2 separate regions of the Homo sapiens genome follow, and region 1 is linked to region 2. Evidence: fine-mapped expression QTL. A gene starts in region 2. The other region holds a variant in brackets. All regions are shown on one strand. Distances are between the middles of the regions. Region 1 overlaps LINC00452 (long intergenic non-protein coding RNA 452). Region 2 holds the start of GAS6 (growth arrest specific 6).

Region 1 (2,906 bases), 42 kb after region 2:
GAACTTTCAAGCCCTTATCAGCAACATGGAAATAAATAACTCAAAGGTTAATTCCAGAAAGTTTCCTTACTCAAAGCGCATCTTGGCATTGATTTCACAGGCAGCAAGCCTCATCCCAAGCAATGCTAAAAGGTTTCATCACCCCAGCCCCATCCCCAGGCATCTGCTTGTCAGGCTTTAAGGTGATAAAGAAAGAGGAAGGATCATAAAAACACCCACGAAGAAATACAAGGGGGCTATCTAACTATTTTGGAATTAATCCCCTAGACTTTTGGAATGAGGATACATTGAGGAAAAGGTTATGGCAAGTTTGAGTCTGTCACCAACCTGCATCCGAGCCCCAGCAGGCCCTTCAGGTAACAAATCAAAGGCCTGTGTCCTGGTTCTTGCCCCTGCAGTCCTGGCCAACACTTTCTCTTAAGCGGCACCCACTGACCGGCTGCCTGGCAGCCTCCTCACCTTCCCTCTTCACTTGCTACATCTGATCCTTCAACAAGGCAGGAGTCCTGCGTCTACAGGCTTCTCCAGGAGCGATCTCTCTGTCAGGCTAATTAAACGGCAGCTACTCCCCAGGACAGTCCTGGAATCCTTGCTGAATCGTGGAAGCTCCAGGCAACCACAATACCCAGAATCTTTCCGTCACAGTTTAAGCCAGAGGTAGGGTCCCAGCAGGGGCCACTCGACCTTGCAGGAAAGCTCCCACATCCTACCCACGGGATGTTCTGGACCCCACTTCTGTTGTTGAGGTGAGGCTTTATTTTACTTCAAAAGTGTAGTACTTAGAAAAAAGTCAAGATAGTTGTATCTAGGAAGTAAAGATTCGTTTAATAAATTATTCAAAACTTCAGTATATCCTATTGCAATAATACTGAAACCAACTAAGAGAAAGGATGACGATACCCATCAAAGGGAAGTTAAGACCATCTTCTTAAGTAAATCAGAACCGGTGCCTGCACAGAATGAGCTGCTAAAAGAGATTTAAAAGCAATGAAAACACACAGATACGACCTGCCGTGTTCGTAATGTGCAGCCCAAGTGCGATTTCATATGACAGTTTCCCAAATTGCACCCTTCTGTGTGCAGATTTCAAAGTTTTGCCATATCCATGTGCTCTGAATTATTGTCTACCTAGGGCATCTTCAATAGACTCATTAAATACATTTAAATGTAAAATATGTTTACATTTAAATACATTTAAATACATCTGTGTGAGATTGAAGGTCCATTGTGCTGCCTGGTTTTTTCTACAGCACACTAAAATAAATTAGTAACTATTTTAAAAAATATCCATCCAGGTACCACCTAGAGCCCTGTCATATCCCCTCTGATCATCACCCACTGGCACTGGGTGTGACACCTTCCCCATGGGAACATGGCAGGACAACCCAGGAGGAGTCAGAGGACAGTGGGGGTCAGAACAGAGTGGGCAGCGCTGTGCGCAGTCCCCCGCCGGACGGCAGTGTCCTGAAATGTCAGCATGCTGGCATTTTATCCTACTCCTTTTATTAGGGAGCCTGAAATTTAAAAACATAGGCAGGCCC[T/C]GCTTATCAACACGGGTAATTTCCTATCTCGAGTGCATTCTCACTGAAGCAGGCCTTCCTATGATGTGTCCTAGGGAGATGGGCGTCACAGTTTGGGTTAACACTGAAAAACGTAAGGACAGTATAAAGATTTGAGTAGTAACCAAGATGGCACTCTTTAAACTTCAAACAATGTTTTTACAATTAATTTTTTTCTAATTATAAAAGTAATCCGTGTAGATTGCAGACCATTTGAAAAATACAGGAAAACACAAAGAAGGAAATAAAATTTATGCAGAGATAACCACTACTATGAAGTGGGCACTGAGTTCCATTAGGAAAAATTCCTAGGGGAGGAATTAGGGAATCAAATATTGAGTTTTCCTGTCAAGGGTGGTGCCAAGCTCTTCTGGTTGGCCACACATAGCCGACATGCCAGGCCAGCCTGCACCCTCCATCCCTCCACACACATCCAGAGCCGGGGGCCCAGGTGGCCTCTCCCACAGCTAAGGCTCAGCAGAGCCAAGGGTGGCTGCCAGGCCCGCTGGTGCCCTCTGCATGCATCTCTGCCTCTTGGGAATGGGCCAGGACTGCAGAGTGGGAGAGCGCTCAGGAAGGCTTGGTGGAGACAAACTGGCAAAGTGTTTTTAATGCTGCAAAACCAAATATATGCAAGAAAGCTGTAAAAATTGGAGGAAGATGACATTCAAAGGGATTCTGCCCTCAGATCACCATGACAGCATCTTTAATTCTTGCCTTAATTTAAGGAAATAAAGCGTAAAACCATGAGTGATGAATTATAAGATTTTTAAAATTTCTTTTCTTTTTGCCAGGAAAAAACAAATTCAAAGAGCAGACCTCACAGAGATGTTCTCACAAGAATCAAATCAATTCAGACTCATATATTTTAAGTTAAAAGGAAGCATTTGAGATGTATATGTATCATTGTCAATTTCCTGCTTTACCTGATTTTTTCACTTATTTGAAAATATTTCAACAAATAAAAGGGCTCCTAAGTGTTCAGCATGTTTCTGCATCTAGTCACCTGCTTTTTCATGTCCCTTAGTGGAGTTTTATATTTCTGTTTGCTTTACAAATGTGTACATGGTGGGTTTTATATTTTTATGCTCTCAGACTTACCGGTCCTCCCATCTCTGGTTTCTGCCTTTGGTATCATGCTGACATCTCTCAACTGACCCAATTTTTTCCTATAGTTCCTTACAAAATTTGTTGTTTCTTCAATATAAATTTTGTACTCATCTCTTGGCCTAACAAGTCCTGGGTATTTAAGATGCTGGGTTGTTATTTCGAACAGGCTCCCCCTCACTCTTGCTTGCGAGGTGGTTATTGCTAGCATCTGGGAATGCTATTGGATTTCTATATTGA
Region 2 (2,906 bases):
GCCTCAGAGCTTTCAGAAAGGCAGATCTAAGAGGGGTCAAGTCAACCACTAGAAATGTAAGCGGAAACAGGCCTCCATGGTTCATCCAGAACCACTCTTTCATCCCGGGTGACATTTATTCCACCCCAGGAGAATTCTTTAAAAGGAACATTCCAGCAGAACGGAAAACTTCGCTATGAAATCACCCTGACTTCAGGGCGGGAGGGACGTCAACGGGAATCCACACCTTCTCGGACTTTCCAAAGTCACCCGCTCCCGAGCCCGCAGGATAGAGTGGCCAGGCCGTCCTCACACGGCGGCTCCTGCGGGAGGCGGCCCCGGGCGCCCCGCCTTCTCCAAGGACATTCCTAACCGAGGTGCCGGGGCCAGCACCGTCGGGCTCCTGAAAGCACCCGCTGCCTCCAGGAGAGCACCTGGCAGAACGGGGCCGCGGAGCCGCCCTCCCCTCCCGCATGCGGCCCCGCTCGATTCCTGGAATCTTATTTTTGGACCTGCTGCCGCAAGCAGTTCCCGCCCTCGGCCCTTTCAATTCCTCTTTCGGGAGGGGACTGCTCTCCACCCCTCTCAGGAGGACGAGGCGCGGCCCGGGGGTTCCTCACCTCCAGCCCAGCAGAGGGAGGGCCGCGGGGAAGCGGTTTGGGTTTTAACCATTGTGTTTCTCTCGCACTTTGGAAACGGACTCCCGGCTTCCCCGCGGGGAGGCGTCTGACAGCGAGCGTTTCCCGGACAGCCCCGCAGCGTCTCACCGGCCTGCGCGGGGATCCCGGGGTCGCCGGGGGATGGGCGTGGGGGACGCGGGGCGGGCCGGGGCTCCTGGGACCCTGAGGCCAGGCCTCGCCGCGCGGAGCTGGGGGGCGGCAGCAGCGCTGCCTCTCGGGAGCGGTTGGAGGCGCGCGGGCGCCAGGGGTTCCCCCGCATCCCGCCCGCCGGCTGCTCACCGTCTCGGGGTCGTTCTCGAACACCTCCCGCGCCTCCTCGCGGCTGCACAGCTCCTCCACGCACTCCCTCTCCAGGTGGCCCTGCTTGGCCTCCTCGAAGACCTGAAAGGCGCGGCGCTGCCTGGGCCGCAGGAACTGCGTGGCCTCGCGCGCCGGCAACAGCGCGGCTGCCCGGAGGGAGAGAGGGGGACGCGTCAAGCCGCGCCCGGAGCCTCCTCCCGCCGCCCGGGGACGGGGTCTCGGGCCCGCGGGACTCACCAAGCGCGCACTCCGCGGCCAGCAGCAGCAGCAGCAGCTGCGGCGCGCGGCGCAGGGCGGCGGGCCCGGGCGAGAGCGAAGGGGCCATGGCGGGCCGGGGACGCGCGGTCAGAGCGCCCGGGAGGCCGAGGCGAGCCGCGGGCGCCGCGGGGCGGAGGCTCCGGTCATCCCGTCCTGGCGGCCCTGAAGGTCACATCGCGGCGGCGGCGGCGGCGGCGGCTGCGGCACCTCAAGCGCTCGGTCTGGGCGTGTTCGGGCGGCTGCGCGCGGGGAGGCGGCGGGGGCGGGACCAGCGCGCGGGCGGGGCGCGGGTTCCCGGGAGGATCCGGGCGCGGGGAAAGCGGAGCGTCCGGGACGCGGCGGGACTCGAGTGTTTCGGAAAAGGAGCGTCTCCCCAGGCGGTGGTTGTCTTCACTAGCGATGGGGTAAAAGGAGGACGCAATACCTGGTTCAACTTGAGCAGGTACATTTTGACCATATTCCAGGTGTCATGTGAAGATTTAAGCCTCTTTCCAACCCCCACTCCCCCCGAATCTACTGCATCCTTTTTGGAGTCTTCATTCTTAGGCACATTTTGTCAAGACTTAAAACCTACCAAAGAAAAGATACACTGAGGTCAGATCCAATCCCACTGGGGGCCAGCGAGTGAAATGCGACGGTTTCCTTTTATAATCTCTGTTTTTCATAATGATGACATTAAAAATCTTGAGGTTTCCCAGTAGATATTTAAGCTGAAAGCAACATTGTGCTTGTCTTCAGAGACCAAGACTTTCTGGCTCTTGTCTTGGAATATTTCGCAAAGTCATAGGCAAAACACACACAAACAAACAGAACCAAAACACAGCAGACCACTCACGGGGGACCGAACCAGGCAGTTAGCCCAGCATCCCCCTGCTGCGGGAGGAGGGAGCTTGGATACTCCTCTCTGGAGAATCCTGCTCTGGAAATCCCCACACCCCAAAATGCAATGTAGAGGGGCAGTGAGTCAGCACCTCACCCCAAATGAATGGCCGTTCTGCTCAGCAGGCTCAACGCTTAGATCCCCAGATCCAGTTTCTCTTTGCTTTCTGTAATTGGAAGAATGGAATAGGATTGCTGCTAGAAATCTTTGAGGTCACTGGTTTGAAAGTGGGATTATGAGCATGAATTTTTGTTGTTGTTGTTTGTTTGTTTTCAGACGGAGTCTCGCTATGTTGCCCAGGCTGGGGTGCAGTGGCGTGATCTCTGCTCACTGCAAGCTCCGCCTCCCGGGTTCACGCCATTCTCCTGCCTCAGCCTCCCGAGTAGCTGGGACCACAGGCGCCCGCCACCACGCCCGGCTGATTTTTTTTATTTTTAGTAGAGACGGGGTTTCACCGTGTTAGCCAGGATGATCTCAATCTCCTGACCTCGTGATCCGCCCGCCTGGGCCTCCCAAAGTGCTGGGATTACAGGTGTGAGCCACCGCGCCTGGCCGAGCATGTTAATTTAAGCAAATGAATGTCCCTGGGAATGATCTTCAAGGAGAATTAAAGTGGGATAGAGAAGTCATCTATCTGCACCTGTGTCTGAACCAGAATGACGAGGCACTTCCATGTCAGCTAGTTACTGGAGCAGGCGGAGTAAGGAGTACCCCTGGGCTTCTGCCCCGAAACCACCACGGCTACTTCAAAACAATATTACATTAATTTTCCTGCTTGTTCTTGAGAAGCACTGGTTTGAAAAATTGGA

What was found. PIP is the estimated chance that this variant, and not a neighbour inherited with it, causes the effect.
Region 1: its variant is the best candidate, but not a certain one, in a credible set for the expression of GAS6 in fibroblasts (GTEx, PIP 0.67).

What each region holds. Positions count from the first base shown.
Region 1 is chr13:113,904,716-113,907,621 of GRCh38, forward strand. The region is part of intron 3 of LINC00452 (long intergenic non-protein coding RNA 452); the gene reads left to right. Among named protein-coding and RNA genes, the nearest start is that of LINC00452, 11 kb to the left of the region's middle. The variant T/C (reference allele first, on the strand shown) is at 1,542.
Region 2 is chr13:113,862,637-113,865,542 of GRCh38, forward strand. GAS6 (growth arrest specific 6) reads right to left here and starts at 1,440. Exons shown (of 15, transcript NM_000820.4): 1 at 1,197-1,440; 2 at 939-1,105. The coding sequence starts at 1,284. GAS6-DT (GAS6 divergent transcript) reads left to right here and starts at 1,541. Exons shown (of 2, transcript NR_044993.1): 1 at 1,541-1,659; 2 at 2,374-2,906. RefSeq lists silencers at 464-513, 994-1,053, 1,074-1,133 and an enhancer at 854-1,445.